Linked DNA regions of Homo sapiens: region 1 is linked to region 2. A link means that fine-mapping ties the variant in region 2 to the expression of a gene that starts in the linked region. Tissue or cell type: tibial nerve. Region 2 holds a variant in brackets; the other region holds the start of a gene. All regions are shown on one strand. Distances are from middle to middle.

Evidence for each region. PIP is the estimated chance that this variant, and not a neighbour inherited with it, causes the effect.
Region 1: COL27A1 starts here. The variant in region 2 is fine-mapped to the expression of COL27A1 in tibial nerve (GTEx, PIP above 0.99).

The regions. Positions count from the first base shown.
Region 1 is chr9:114,150,691-114,158,792 of GRCh38, forward strand. It overlaps COL27A1 (collagen type XXVII alpha 1 chain), which reads left to right and starts at 4,847. Exons shown (of 61, transcript NM_032888.4): 1 at 4,847-5,322. The coding sequence starts at 5,261. It overlaps LOC105376225 (a long non-coding RNA gene), which reads right to left and starts at 3,578. Exons shown (of 5, transcript XR_930256.3): 1 at 2,405-3,578; 2 at 2,150-2,307; 3 at 1,903-1,997. RefSeq lists an enhancer at 2,654-3,175 and silencers at 4,712-4,831, 5,719-6,013.
Region 2 is chr9:114,113,559-114,121,660 of GRCh38, forward strand. No RefSeq gene overlaps it. Among named protein-coding and RNA genes, the nearest start is that of KIF12, 18 kb to the left of the region's middle. RefSeq lists enhancers at 1-351, 6,111-6,405. The variant A/G (reference allele first, on the strand shown) is at 4,193.

The DNA of each region.
Region 1 (8,102 bases), 37 kb after region 2:
GGCACTGTGCTTTGTGTTGTTGTCAGAAGCTAAACAAGGCAGCCGCGTCCAGCAGGGACCACAGCTTGTATTTGCCAGTGGCCAGCTCAGGGCCTGATGCGTGACAGCATCTCCCTACCAGGGAAAGAATGACTCCATGGTTAGACATGTATTGTGTGCGTATCCTTTGCTACACGCAGGGTGGGGCCGCCAAATGAAAGAAAGACCCAGCCTGGTATGCCCACAGCAGTGCAGGGTATTGGAAAGACTGGCAGACTCTAGCTCTTCTCCTAGTGGGAGGAATCTGGTTCTCCTCCAAGCCCTGCAGTACCACTTAAACAGGCTTGATTTGAGGCAGGACTTCCTGACCTGCATTTTTTATCTGTCTTTCTCTTTGCTGGCCTCCTTCCTCAGACCATAGCGCTTCTAGAGCAGAAAACCCAGCCTGGTGCACAGTGGGTCTTCAGAAGCAGCTTGGTGGGTAAACGGACGTGGATTGATACTTGGGGCAGTATGCAACCTCTGTCCTGCAGGTTAAGACTTCCTCTAGGGCCAGGTGCAGTGGCTCATGCCTGTAATCCCAGTACTTTGGGAGGCCAAGGTGGCAGTATTGCTGGAGCCCAGGAGTTCAAGACCAGCCTGGGCAACAAAGTGAGACCCTGTCTCTACCAAAAAACAAAACAAAACAAAACAAAACAAACACTTCATCTAGTGGTTCATTCATAAATATTTTGTGAGCATCTACTGTGTGCCCAACATTAAAGCTATTGCAACCAACAGCTTCTCCTAAGGCAGATGTGCCACAGAGACCGATGGGTCCATGGCTGAGCTGCTTGAGCAGGGAACAAACTATGTGTTCCCTGAAAGTCCCCACCAGGCCAGGAATTCTCATCCTGAGGCATCTACAGAGGCCTGGCAGCCCCTGCCCACCTGGTTCCCAGGCTTACTGCCTTCTGCCCCATAGAAATGGGCCCCTTAGGGCTGTTTGGTGAGTGTGCTGTCCCCTTTGAAGGGTGGGTAATGGCTTGGTGTCTTCCAGATTCAACGTCCATCAGAACAGTTCATGCCCAGTCACTGGCTCTGCGCCAAGAACCTGCCTGGCAGGAAGACTGCTTGTGGGGAGACGGCAGAGGCAGGATACAAGGCCCTTCCTTGGAATTCTCCCCAGTGTCCCTGCCTCCTCTTCTCAGCTGCCCATGAGCTCCTGGAAGGCCATGAGCCTCATTTCCCTCCCGACCTAGCAAAATGCAGTTAGCCCTCAATATTCACATACATAATTGGATTTCTTGTTGAAGGACAGTCTCATGCCTCCAAGCTCAAAGGGCCCACACAGATCATCACGTTTGATGCACCTATTTTACAGATGGGCAGAGTGAGGCTCTGAGAGGGGATGTCCTCAATCCTTTTGGGTTCTCATAGCATTCTCACGGGTCTTTTGGGCTGACCTGGGTGAAGCAGGCAGCATTCCCTGGCACTAAGCCTTGCCTATTCACATTTGTGAGTGAAATTTGGAAAGGCCTTGGTGCTTAGCCACTGACCTGCTGCCTGCCTGACCTTTCAGGAAATGCAGTCCCTTGCCTGGAAATGGCTTTGTGGACAGTGAGTCGTGTGGTATCACCCACACAATACAGTGGGGAGAACTGGACAGTTTCCCCAGTTTCTCACTGGGCCCCACCGCCTCAATCCTCCTTCAAAACCTGCCTGAAATCCAACTCTGTCCTCTTGGTCTTTTTGTGACTCTTTCACCGGAGATGTCCTTCTCCTCTGTGGCTGCACATTTATCCAACACACCCTTTAAGATCCAAATGCCACCTCCTCCTGGGGGCCTTCCTCGGTTTCTTTCCATCCCTTAATCAGCTTCACAATTCAATTGATCTGCATCTCTTTGGTGGCATTTATCACATTCTCCTTATATTATCTTACCTTTATGCAGTTGCAGGGGGTTCTCCATGACATAGTGATGTCTGATGTCTCCCATCCAGACTCTCTTCCCTACCCCAAGTTGCTGTGCGTGTCTCCTGTCCACATTACAAATGCGTGCATGACCAGAAGGCAGGACCATATGGAAATTTTTGTCCCTGCCCCCACAGTGGCAGACCCTTTTCCCCCAGAGTCTTGTACAGGGGTTTGCATACTGTAGGAGTTAAAACAAATAACTTATTTAAATTACCAACGGTTTGAGCATCTATTGTATCCCAGGCTCCATGTGTCAGGCTGGGTGTGGGGACACAGAGATGGATCTGACAATGACAGCGCCATGTGATGTGTGCTGCAATCCCGGTGTAGGGCAGAGCAGCTCACCAGAGTCAGGTGAGCTCTGGCCTGCACCTAGAAGAATAACCAGGTTGTGAACAGGCAGAAAAGGGGCAGAGGGAGAACCTGGGAGGAAACAGTATGGAGAAAGCATCGAAGTAGTCAAGCTTACCTGAGCCTGGGTGCAGGTATCAGAGAGACTGGAGCTCAGGAGGCCGGATCTGAAGCTGGGGAGGCTGCTGAGGATCTGCACAGAACCCCTTAAAGCCTAAGATTTGGATCCTTATGACAAGATGCAGAAGTTTGGAGTTAGGTTACCTGGGTTCAAATCCCACCTCTACCACCTACCCGTTTATGTCAGCTTTCCCATCTGTAAATGGAGAGAAAAAAGCAGGCCTCCCTTAAACCCCAGCACTGTGTGGGTCAGGGTCTGGACTAGGGTGTGGCACATGCAGAGATGCAGCATACCAGGAGATGCCAAGAAAACTCAGCAACGGAGGTAAATTGCCCAAAGCAGTGCCCCAAACCCCTAAGTAATCAAAATAATATTTTAATTTTTTACTTTTAAAATATTTTTAAAAGTATCAAAATTAATGCAAAACCCCACAATGAACAAAATATCTAAAATGTAAATAAAGACAGGGTCTGCATGGTACCAAGTATGCAACTAAAAAAACATCAGTTATGATTGAAGAGGGAGTTCTCAACCTTAGGGGGCCGTGGACTTCTGAAAACCGGAGGAAAGCCCACGGCCCCTCTCCCCTGAAGAATGCACAAACATGCTCAATTTGTGCACAGTTTGGGGGTGTTCCTGCACTCCCTGGGGTTCGTGCACATGGAAGTTAAGAACTCTGGTTCAACATTGGGGGTGCGGGGGTGGCGGGGGTGGTTCCACGCGCCGGCCAGCAGCCTGCCAGTTCCCCAGTCCCGCGACTGGCCTCCCTCCTGGCAGCCATGGGTGCTCTGCCCTCTGCAGGAAGCAGCGCACAGCTATGCAGCTCCCCCAACCCCCCTACCTCCCCTCTCTCGGCTTGGGACTTTTCCTAAAGTTTGTTGAAACCAGACACCTTGCTCGACCGAGCCCGCGTGCAGCCAGGGTTTAAAAGGCCGCCTTCAGCGCCCCCTCCCCGCCCCCAGCGGAGACTTCAAAAGGCCCGGCGGGCGCCGCCGCCCCAGCACCTATGAGCCGCCCCCAGCTCTCGGAGCCCGCGCCGGAGCCCGTGGACGCAGAGCTGCCGAAGTTCGAGCGCAGGCGGACCGGGTCGGCGGCGCAGTCCCGCGCGCCCATGCCCCTCCCGGTGCCGCTGCGCTCCGCGCGCCCGCGCCCCGTTTAGGGAAGGGGACCTCGCCCCCCGCCCCCGCGCCCACGGCTGCGGGGACCCATGAATACAAATGCCGTTAGGCGCCGGAGGAAGGACCGACCGGCCAGCCTCGCACGTAGGGACCCAGTAAGTGCTTGGGGGCTCCTGGAGCGGTGCGAAGTGTTATATGCCTGTGTGTGCGCGCGCCTAAAGGTGTGCGCGTATGGGGAGGTGGGTACACGCGTGAGGAGTGAATGCGTGTGTGCACATGTGCGGTGGGCACTCTCGGAGAACTGTGTGCAAGTGAGGGTGTGCGCGCGTGTGTCCACCCGGGGTGTGTACATGTGTGGGGGCGATATGGCCAGGATAGCGTGCATTTGTGCCTGTGTAAGCATCCGTGTGCATGCTTCTGCGAGTGTAGAGTATCAGCGTGCGCCTGAGCCCAGATATCTGAGGATGCGTTTCGTGTGAACCTAGGAAGGGTGCGTGGCTGTCCCAGAATGGGACCGTGTGTGAGCGTGTGTCTGAGTTTGGGGAAAGGGTGGATACGTGTGGGAGTGTGTGTGTGCACCGGTGAATAAGTGTAACTTTGCTCGTGAACGAGTGGCAAGAGGTGGTAGAGGCGGAGGGAGCTGTGGTCCCAGGGCTGGACTGGAGTTTTGGGTGTGAGAATTTGCCCGGGGGCCAAGGTGTGCAGCTCTTAGCTCCCGGATGGGATCCGAGGGAGTTTTTGTCGATTCTGGGGAGGTGCGTGGTTAGTGGTGGTGGTGGGGTGCGGTTAGATTCCAATTGCTGACAGAAGGGAGAGAGAGGGTGGCAAACCCTTAACAAGCCCACCCTATATGTTCTCCAGGGCGCTCCGAGTCTGGGAGCGCAAACTTTTGGTGGGCGGTGGGGATCACGATACTGGTTGTCGTGGGCGTCTGGACACCAAGTTCTGGTCCTAGCTCCGTCCCTGAAACTGTGGGTTTCTTCCAGGAGTAGAATTTGGCCCTTCTCCCCTACCCCAACCCCCCATTGGAGGACCCCCAGCCTCACCAGTCAGAAGTTCCTAATCTCAGAACGGTGATCAAATCACCGTGAAGCCCTGGGCAGCCCCTTCCTCTCTGTGAATCTGTTTCCCCATCTATACAAGGAGGAGGGGGGCGGGTGTCCCATCGGGGCTGTAGTGGGCCAGCTGAGGCTGTACCCTTGGCTCCGGCCGGCAGGGGGCAGCAGGGGGCAGCAGAGGGCGGCCGGGAGCGGGGAGGAGGGAAGGTGGAGAGCCACCGCGGGCCGAGACTTTAAATCGCCTTCATTTCCCCCAAATCCTTCCTTTTCCTCTCCTCCCCCAGGCCGGCGGGGAGGCAGCTTCCACCGCCCTCCGCGCGCCCTCACCCGGCCTTGCTCTGCCTCCGGGGACCGCCAGCAGCCCGCCTCCAAAAGTTTGATCATCTCTCTCTCTCTTTTTCTTGCTTCTTCTTCCTTTTTGGTGGAAGCAGAAAAGGACCGAGGCAGGGGCGAGCGCGGCGCCCGGACTCCTGGGACCATGGGCCTGGCGCGGGCGCCCGCGGGGCCCCAGCCGCGCTGCCTGCCTGCTCGGGCGCCCCTGGGCGCGGGGCTGCGCTGGGGGCGCGGGGGCCGCGCGCTCTAAGCCGGCCTGGCGCGGCGGGGCGGGGGGCTGGCGGCCCCATGGGGCGCGCCCACACTTGCCCCCCGGGCTCGGGAGCATGAAGTAGGGGCCTGCCATGGGAGCGGGATCGGCGCGGGGGGCCCGAGGCACAGCGGCGGCGGCGGCGGCGCGCGGGGGGTGAGTACGAACTCGGGGACGCCCCCTCCCTAGCTTCCTGCTGCTCCAATCTCGGGGAGGGCCGGGGTTCCCCGCCATGCGGTCGCTTCCAGCGGAACGTCAGCTTCCTGCCCCTTCCTGCGCCCCCGCGAGGCGGGACGCCAAGGGTTAATAGGGGCTGCGCCCCCGGCCGGGCGAGAGTTGGCGAACGCTGCCCGCCCTGCCGCGCCTGGCCCGGCTGCCCGATCCCGTTGGGGCGGGGGCAGAGCCAGCCCGGGGGTCGGGGGTGGGGGTGGGTGGTGGCGCCTGGAGCGGCCGGCGGGGTGCGGAGGGGGGCTTTTTGGATGCTTGGGGGAGGAGGGGGGTCTCCGTTTGGGGCCGTCTCGGTGTGTTCCGGTGTCTCAGTGTCTGCAGGTCCCAAGCCTGTACGTCTCCGTTTCTATCTGTTCTTGTGAAATTGTCCGCAAGTTTCTAGGTCACCAGGTCTCGGGTTCTGCTCCTGTCTCCGTGTCTGTGTGGCTCTGCACGTCCCCGCGTTTCTGGAAATCTCCGCGTGTTTGTGTTAGTCGGCCTGGGTCTGTGTGTCTGTGTTTCCTGCTTCTCGGTTCCTGTCCCTTTCACGTGTGTAAGAGAGAAAAAGTGAGAGCCAGCATGTCAGAGCAGAAAGGGCCCTGGGCGATCACTGTGCGGAACCCCTCAGTGTACAGATCGGGAGACAGGGCCGGAGAGGGGCAGGGACTCTCCCAGGAGCGGCTGCGCGGAGCTGGGGCCCAGAGGCTGGGATTCCCAGCGTGTGGAGTAGGAGTTGTAAGAGAGAGTGAGCCTGTGCTGGAGCCGGCGCAGCGTGTGGGTGTGTGTGGGAGCCAGCAGCATGCAAGCAGCCCGTTGGGGCCTGTGGACGGCGCTCCTCTCTTTCCATCCTGCCCCCAGGACACCAGGACACTCCCCAGAGGCTGTTAGGGCTGTAGCTGGGCCCTGCCCCCTTTGAGCTGGAGTCCGCGGGATGACACCCCCTCCTTTCTTCCCCATGTCTTGGAAAAAGCTGGCTGTTTGCGATTCCCCCGCCCCGCACCCCCTCACCACAACACACACACACACACACACACACACACATACGCGCGCGCGGCACCAGTGAGCACACTGCTGACTCATTTTCTCCAGAAGACCCTGCGCCAGGGTAGATGCCAGCAGTTGGGCAGAAAAGTGGTGCCAGGCGAGCACCCCATGGTGGGGCTCCAGCTGTGGGCAAGTGGGCAGTCAACACTGCTCGGAGGCCCAGTCTCTGCCTTCTCCTGCCTCCCTGCCTCCCTTGACATCACGTTGTCCTGCATCATGTGCGCTCTGGCGCCAGCATACCTCTGCTCTCCAGCATGCCTCTGCTCTCCAGCATGCCTCTGCTCCTGGACCCTTCTGGCCGGACCAAACTCCATGTCATGTCTATGGACACATCCCTGGCCTCTGCCTCCTTCTGTTTCCTCCCTGTACTCAGAACATTCTCCCTCTCCTGTGCCTCCACCAGCGCTGCGGACCCTCAGCAGCCAGCAGCCTCCTGGTGGTCTCTGTCCCTTTCTGAGCACACTCCCCTGTTCTTTGTTGGCATTTTCTCTCCTCCATCTCTGTCCAGGGACCCTCTTGATACCCACATGCCTGGCTTGGCTACGCAGAGTAACATATCCACTGGTGGTAGGGGACAGCAGTGAGACACTCACAGAATCATGTTGGTGGGAGGCAGGCGGCACCACAGGAGGGCCATGAGGCTTGCCATCAGGCAGGCTCGAGTTTGAATCCTAACTCTGCTGTGCCAGCTTGGGTGAGCCACTCTGCTGCTTGTTTTTCTCTTCCACAAAACCGGCACCTTATTCCTAGCTGGCTGGGTTTTGTGAAGATGAACAGGACCATGCTTGTAAAGGGCTTAGAACAGGGCCTGGCATGTAATAAGTGCTCAGTAAACGGCAGCTGGTATTTGTATTATTCCCTTCATGTTGAATGGGTGTGTGAGTCAATGGGAAAGTTCTGGGCTGCATCCTCTCCAGACGATGACCTGTCTGTGTTCCCATGGAGGACGTGGAAGCTGTGAAGAAAGCCCAGGCATAGCCGTCTGGGCACAGGGGGTCTGGCCAGTCCATGGAGGCAGGTGGGACAGGTCCACCCCACTTGATGAGCTGTAGTTCCAGCTAGCTCCCTTTTCAGCTTTTACCCCATGCGTGAACAGCCAAGCCTAGTGTCCACAGGGCCACTTTCCCTGTGTGTTTCTGTGGCCTGGGTCTCAGCTCAGAGCCCTCAGTGACTGTTGAAGCTGGTGTGGGTTTCTAAGATCCTGTGTGTTTCCAGGTAATAAGGATGGAAGAAAACTATCCAAGCAGTCTGCCGGTTCTGGCAGTGTGGTTACCCAGGAGTAGCCCCATTTGGTGCACTGGCAGAGGGCCTTTTGCAAGGGCATAGAAACACCTGGGTTTCCTCTTTGGAGGGCTGTGTGGCCAGACGATGTTTCCATGTGATGTTTCCTCGCGGCTCCCGTTTCGGCTGCCTCCTGGCCTCCCTGGCCTCTGTGCTCTGGTCTTCCTGACATTCTGGAGCCCTGGGTTTGCAGAGACAAGGCCCACAAGACAAGTGGTGAAAACAGAAGTCTGGAAGAACAAAGCCCTGAGCCAGCACAGGCACTAACCATGATTAGCAGTAGCCTAAACAGGATTGGAACGGGAGCAAAAGAATCGGCAGGGCCTCCCTCTGAGAGCCAACTTTCCAGGCCTGGAGCTGACTTAGATGGCTCGTTGGCTCCCTGGGTTGCATCTCTGTTCCTG
Region 2 (8,102 bases):
AGTGTGGGCTAGAGGCATCAAAAGCCCTGCCTGCTCCAGGGACCTGGGATTTCTGAGAGCAAATGCTGCCTCTGCCTCCCTGGGGGGAGACACAGCCACCCCCTCCCCCAACACCAGATGAGACTCTCATCAATCCCAAGACCGAGTCCTATCCGGCTTAGGTGGATTGATTAGCACCACTTTCTAGGGCTTTGTACCCTTCATTTCTTCTTGCCAGCTCCATCTACCTAGACCCCTCTCTTTTCCAGTTCTCAGAAACTGGACCCTCTCTTTTCTCCCCAGAATTAAAGGGGTGCTGGATTCTCTTAGTCTTGCCTCCCTCCCTTGGCACATATGCCCACTTTGGTACTACTACTACTATGACCTCTACTAGTATTGCTGCCACTGTCTTCTCGTAGTCCTTCTAGTCCTTTACTACGACCCTGCCAATGCTTCTACTATTACTGCTGGCACTTCTTACTATGACCACCACAACCAGTACTTCTACTACTATTGCTTCTACTGCCTCTACTGCATCCCCCGACAAATCTCATCTTGAATTGTAATCCCCATGTGTCAAGAGAGGGACCTGGTGGGAGCTGATTGGATAATAGGGGCAGTTCCCCCCACACTCTTCTCCTGATAGTGAGTGAGTTCTCATGAGATTTGATGGTTTTAAAGTGTGGCACTTCCCCTTTGCTCACTCTCCCTCTCTCCTGCCATCTTGTGAAGGTGGTGCTTGCTTCCCTTTCGCCTTCCACATGATTATAAGTATCCGGAGTCCTCCCCAGACATGAGGAACTGTGAGTCAATTAAACCTCTTTTGTTTATAAATTACCCAGTCCCAGGTAGTCTCTTTATAGCAGTATGAAAATGGTCTAAAACATAGTACTTCTTACTCTATTACCACCAGTATTTCTACTGCAGTACTGCCACCAGGATTGCTTCTCTTGTTATTTATACTACTACCACTTTGCTACTACCGTAATGATGACTACATACTATTTGCAGCTACTGCTAATAGCAGCAAACGTTATGAATCACACACAATGGGCCAAAGACTGAGCTAAGCACCCTGTGTCAATTGATACAATTTAAACCATGGCAACAGACATCTGTGGTGTAATATTATTGACAAAAAGAGTCAAACTCTGTAAAATGTTTATTTTATTATTAAAAATTATTATGAAATTGAAAATTATTATTAAAAAGAGATTTATTCTGAGCCAAATAAGAGTGACCATGGCCCATGACACAGCCCTCACTCAGGAGGCCCTGAGAACACGGGCCCAAGGTGGTTGAGTGCAGCTTAGTATTATACATTTTAGGGAGACATGAGACATCAATCAAATACATTTAAGATATACATTGGTTCAGTCTAGAAAGGCGGGACAACTTGAAGCAGAGTGCATGTGGGGGCTCCCAGGTTTATAGGTAGAATAAAAAAATTTCTGATTGGTAATTGGTTAAAAGAGTTATTATCAATAGAAAGGAATGTCTGAGTTATGATAAAAGGTTGTGAAGACCAAAGTTTTATCATGCAGATGAAGCCTCCAGGCAGCAGGCTTCAGAAAGAATACATTGTAAGTGTTCCTTATCAGACTTCAGGTCTGCGTTGATGTTAAATAGGGGTCAGCTTTTCCTGAATCCCAAAAGGGAGGAGGGCTACTGAGGCATGTCTGACCTCTGCTTCCCATTATGGCCTGAACCAGTCTTTCAGGTGAACTTTGGAGTGCCTTGACCCAGAGGAGGGAGTCCAGCTGGTTGGAGGGCAGGGGGCTTAGAATTTTATTTTTGGTTCACAATATCCTCCCTCCTTTATTGATGGGGAAACTGAGCTTTGCAGAGGCTAAGTAACCTGCCCAAATTCATAGAGACAGTAAAAGACTGAACCAAGACCTCAACCAGCCACCTAACGACAGGGACCAAGTCTGAGATCTAGAACCTTTCTCCTTTGTCCTTTGTCTACCTTCAAGAGTATATCCTTGTCTTCTCTTCAGTCCTCTGGAAAGAATTACTTGAAGTCAAAGAAGGAAAGGGGGCCTACCTCTACAGATGTCTAGAATGCTGTGAGCAATGTACATAGTAGGTGTTCAACACATACTGTTTGAATAAATTGGATTCTAATGATAACCTTTTGAGGTAGGAACAAGGATCTTGATGTTGCAGTTGGGGACACTGAGATTTTCAGAAACGCTGTGGTCTAGCTAAGAGGTGAAGTTGGGACCAGATGCTAGAATTCAGTCCTTTCATGACCTCGAATACAAAGTGAACTGTCCGACCCGACCACAAAGTCTTCTGTGTGCATTGTACGTCACGGTTTGCAAAGCTCACACATCTGTTATTTAATTCTCACAACAGCCCTCAGAGGGGGTGATCGGTTCCACTGTAATGATAAGGAAAACCAGATTCAGAATGCTAAGGCAGCTTTGGAAGGGCTCATGGAGAGGCAGCAGCAAATCCAGGATTGAACCAACTCCTCCCTACTAACCCAAGGGTGGGAGCCTCCCAGCGAAGACTCCAAGAAGTCTCTCTTGGGACAGCCCACCGCCACTCCCTGTCCAGCCACCTCAGCCCCTAGGGTGGGCAAGCCCATGGCCCCAAGGGGTGGAGAGAACCGGTTATTTCCAGCCTGGTACTTAAGGGCTGGCCAGGGAGGAGGGAGGAGGGTGTGAGCCGGCTGGCAGGCTCTGTGCTCCCAAGAGGGTCTGGCCTTTGGCTGCTGAGAACTGGGCAGGGGGTCAGGAACTCCTGTCCAAGCCACCCAGGCCAGCTGAAGCTGGGCAGGTGTCCCAGGAGAGGGCAGGCCACTCCCTCCCCAAAAAGGCAGGAGTATGCAGCCAATATGCACACAGGCGGCTCATTCAGCCCCTGCAGCTCCTTGGCCCTGCCCTGGGCCGTGGCCCCCAGGCTGAGGCACTGCCCCTGCTGTTCTCGGGAGATGGAAACAGACAGCAGTTCTGATCAGGACCTGTGGGTCAGTGAAGAGCAAACACATCCTGCTCTGAGCACCGATTGGGTGCCATCCATCCTCTGCAGCTCTGTAAGGTGGAAATTCCCGCCTCCCACGGTTCCTCTCCCACTTGTGTGTGGAATGCGATCACCACGCTGCCTCCCTTTCAAAGCGCCCAGTGTTTCCTAACTCAGGACCTTTGCACATGCTGTCCCTATGCTGGGGGTACCTTTCCTTTGGCTTCTCACGTGACTGGCTCCTTTGTCTTCAGGTCTGACTGTAAAAGGTCACCTTTCAGTGGCATCTTCCCTAGCTCCCCTCACTCATAATTTTCCCCACCTCCCATGCACACACCTTGTCTCTGTCACCCTCCTCTACTTTCTCCTCAGCATTCTTATTTATTTATTTATTTATTTATTTATTTATTTATTTATTGAGATGGAGTCATCTTGCTCTGTCACCAGGCAGGAGTGCAGTGGCGTGATCTCAGCTCACTGAAACCTCCGCTTCCCGGGATCAAGTGATTCTCCTACCTCAGCCTCCCGAGTAGCTGGGATTACAGACACGTGCCACCACGCCCAGCTAATTTTTGTATTTTTAGTAGAGATGGGGTTTCACCATGTTGGCCAGGATGGTCTCGATCTCTTGACCTTGTGATCCCCTCTCCTCGGCCTCCCAAAGTTCTGGGATTACAGGTGTGAGCCATCGCGCCCTGCCCATATTTATTTTTTATTGATTTTTGTTTGTCTCTCTCCCCATAGGAATAAAGAATCTATTTTATGAACTATCAGGTCCCCAAGGTCCAGCAGAGGGCTTGACACATAGAATCAACATTTATTGAATGAATAGATGGAAGGGAAGTGAAGGCTCTTGTCCACCTTGTCCATGTTCTCATTGTTAAAGAAGGCATCACCAACATTGAAACTCGGGTCTGTCCGTCTCTAAAGAGGCCCCCATTTCACCTGTGGGTGTGCTCAGTGAGGACACCATCTTCCCTGCAGTGATTTTTTTTCTCTGCCCCAAAGGCACGTTCTTTATACATGGGGCATGGTGTCTCCTCCAACTTCCCATCACACGTCCTCCCGCCTCTGCTTGCATATCTCCAAAAGACAGGGAGCTCACCCCATCCACTGCAATATTAGAAAGTCCCTTCCAAGACTCTACGACCTTCAGAACAATGGAACGGGCAGTTCTTCACAATGTTCTCAAATGCTGAAGAGGAAGAATTGCTGTCGTTAGCACAAGGCTGTGGACTTGGAC[A/G]ATACACTTTTCTGTTTATTCATTGATTTTCTGAGCCCCAACCATGGGCCAGGGCTGTGGTGTCGAACTAGAGAGCAAAAGAGCCTTGGTGGCCGCCTTCTCGATGATGTGTCAGGTCCACTGTGGCCTTTGGGCCCTAGAGTGGTGGTGGCAGGGGGGTGATGGAGGAGGCATGTGGAGTGGATCAGATGCTTCTTGAAGTCGATAGTGCACACAAGTCACCCAGGGATCTTACTAGGATGCAAATTCAGGGACAACAAATCTGGGTAGAGGTTCTATGTTTCTCCTAAGCTCTCGGGGGATGGTGATACCACTGGTGCATGGACCACACTTTGAGTAGCAAGGTAGAGACTCAACTGACAAAAGAAGACAGTGAAGCCTAGAGCAAGTCAGGGACTTGCCTCGGGTCACTGGTCAGGCAGCAGGAGCTGAGAAGGGACGGCCTACCTCCGCGGGCCAGGGCTCTGGAATTCGTGGGGCAGGCTGGGCTGAGTATGCCTTTGTGAGGCATGGCATACCTGGACTCACCCGAGCTGCCCGTCCCTGCCCATGAATAGTGGGCCTCTTTCCTTCCTGCATAAGGCTTGGCGGGCGCAAGCCCACGGCCGCCCCCTCCCCTGCACACACACTTACACACACTCACACACCCCTGCCGGCTCAGCTGCCCTCCCTGTTTGGGGAAAGTCAACAAGAGCATTTGAAAAGTCTTTCTGTGTGGAGAATCTGTTTGTATAGGGGGAGGAAACGGAGAGCTGGCCAATAGGTAGAAATATTAATGAAGCTTGTTATAAAGGGCCCATTCACGGCTCTCCGAGTAAATAGGGCTCTTGTCGGGCTGCCACGTTATCTGCCAAGTTCAAGAATGTGGTTTGAAAAAATAGAATTTAAAGGGGTGAGGTGGAGCCTTCAATGGCTGGCCTGCTGGAGCTGGAGCCAACTCCAGGAGGAGCCTGTGCTGTGGGGGGCTGTGGCTGGGGACACTGGAGGTGCTGGGTCTTGTGGTGAAGGCTGCCTGGGAAGAGGGGCTGGTGAGGAGCCGCTGGAGTTCCGACTTAGAGAGAATTCCTGTCCACCGGTGTGGAATGCCCCGTGCCATTCCTTCCTCCCCTTGGTGCCTGGCACAGGGCTTGCAGATCCTCTGCTTAGCCCCCCAACCCAGTCTACCTTAACTCTCCTGCCTGGGGATTTGCCTCTTGGGATGTTGGTGGAGGGGATCTCTATATGGTAGGAGGAGGGCTTTGTAGTAATTCTTAGCCATAATGCTGTGCTATTCCACAAACCTCAGCCATCTTCTCCCACGCCCTTACGAGGTCCTACTTTATACATTCTTACCAGATGCTACATAAGAAAGAGCATAAGAGACTGAGATGTTTGACTCAGAGAAGGAAAGTGACCAGCTCAAGGTCACTCAGCAAGTGTGTAGCAGAACTGGGACTTGCTTCAACCAGTTTCCTGTTGGGTCATTGTTCCCGGCACTGAAGATAGTGCCTGGCCTGAGGGGCTGTCTTGTCATTTCACATGTACAGTGTCTTACTTTTAGCCCTGGACTTAAAGCAACTTATAAGCAAGGACCGTGTCTTATGCTTAGTTTTCCCCTGGCCAGCTGTGTGGTCTTGGACAGGTGACTTTGCCTCTCTGAGCCTCAGCTTCACCATTTGTAAAATGGGGTCATTGAGACCAAGCCCTCCTTTCCAGAAGACTCAGTGAGAGGATGTTGGTGAAGTGCCCAGTGCTATGCCAGGCCCTCGGTGGGTGGCCCAGGAACAGTGGCTGAGGGCACTTCTTTTTCTGTTCCAGCCCACAGTGCAAGGGTAGAGACTCCAGGAAGACTGTCTCCTTTACACTTGGACCCTAGAAGGCTGGTCTGTGCTGAGGGTCATAAGAAGCTGGTAAATTGAGAATCAGGGGTTTCTGCCACCCATGGCATTAGGCGGCAGAGATACATGTGTGTGTGAACTATCACGAGGGTCTGTCAAACAGGCCCTGCAGGAAGCCCAGGCAAGCCCGGGTGACCTTTCATCCTTTCCCCCAGAGAGCTGCACAGAATACACCTCTGTCAGACAAGGGTTAACCTGGGTGGGAGGGAATATTTACACTGGCTTTTCTTTGCAAATAAAAGTTGGTGGCTGGGTGGGGGTGGGGGGGTGGGGAGGGTCGGGGGGTGTCCCATAAAACAAAAAGGAAATAATCTATGCAAAAACTAAATGGAAACGTGTTTTAAAAGACTCTACCAAGAGCTTGCTGAGTGACCCTGAACAGTGGGGACTTAGGGAAAAGTTGACAGCATCCCCTTTAAGAAGAAGTGGTGTAGCATAGGTAGGGCCATGAGCACAGGCTTTGGGGCTCACAGACCGAGGTTAGAATGTGGGCTCTGCTCTTCTCTGGCTATGTGACCTTGAGCAAATCGTGGACCTCTCTGGGCTTCCATTTCTTTGATTTGTACAAGAAAAGAGAAGAGAGGGTTAAAGTATGTGAAGGTCCCTGGCACTTCATGGATGCTCATTAAATGTCAATTTCCTTTCCTTTCTGGGCCTCTTGGCAGGTCGAGGGGAAGTGTCTGACAGGTCTCACCAGCCAGACTGGAGAGAGACACAGCTCTGCAGGTCTCAGTGCCTGCACACCAGCTCAGTAGCCTGATGCTGACTATGCCCCTAGAGCCCTTTACAGTTTGTAAGGCATTCACCTACTTGCCGTTAAAGCCTCCCAAGAATCCCATAAGGTGGTCATGGCAGCATTTACTACCTTATGGTGCTGTGACTGGGAAAGGGTAAGGGACAAGAACCCAGTGCTCTGGGGCGGGGCCCAAGTCTGTCTTCATTCCTTCATTCCTTTAGCAAATATTGATTGAGGACTTGTTATGTCCAGGCACTATGCCAAGCATGGGAGATACATAATGAATAAAAATCGACACAGATGGGTGGTTGATGGATGGGTGGATGGGTGGATGCTGGTCAGATTATGGGTGGGTAGATGGATAGATAGATGGATGATGAATGGATGGGTGAATGGATAGATGAATGGATGATGGGTAGATGGCTGGCTGGCTGGATAGATAGATGATGGATGGATGGGTTGATGGATGGATGGATGATGGATGGTAGATGGATAATGGATAGGTTGATGAATAGATGGGTGGATAGATAGATGGATAGATGGTTAAATGATGGATAGGCAGATAAATAAATGAATGGATGATGGATAGATGGGTAAATGGATGGATGGATGGATGGATGGTGGATGGGTGGCTATGTAGATGAATAAGTGAGCGAAAGAAGGATGACAAGTCCCTTGAGGACAGAGCCCTGGTCTATTCTTTCCACCACTGGGTCCCCAATACTGAGGATGGTGCCTGATACAGAGGGATTAACACTTGCCATATGAGTGTCTTCTTTGGTTGAGTAGACTCAAGAACCAGGCTGCCTGGGAGTCTGAGACCCAACTCTGCAACTTCGTAGCTGTGTGGTCAAGAAGAAGTTACTCAATCTTAAGTGTCCTCAGTTTCCTCATCTACAAAATGAGGTTGACAATACTTTATAGGTTGTTGTGAGGATTAAATGAGTTAATACATGGACATCCCTTAGATCAGAGCTGTGCCTGGTGCACACCAAGTCCCACGTAAGCATTGGCCACATTGATCATTTTTATGGTTTCACATCTGTGCTCCCTCCCGTCTCCTGAAAAAGATAATAAATCCTCTTAAGGCAGGGCTCTGGGCTCTGGGTGCCCTGCCTACTATGCCTCCTAGTAAAAATATGTGTTGACTCTGTGGCTTCAGAGAAAGGAAGATCTTAAATCCAAAGCAGGGGCAAAAAAACTCCAGGGTACACATTCCACTGGGGCCAAGGGCACAGCTGGCCCCTGACTGAGGGAGGCAGGATGGCAGGACAGTCAGAGCCTTGGGCTGGGAGAG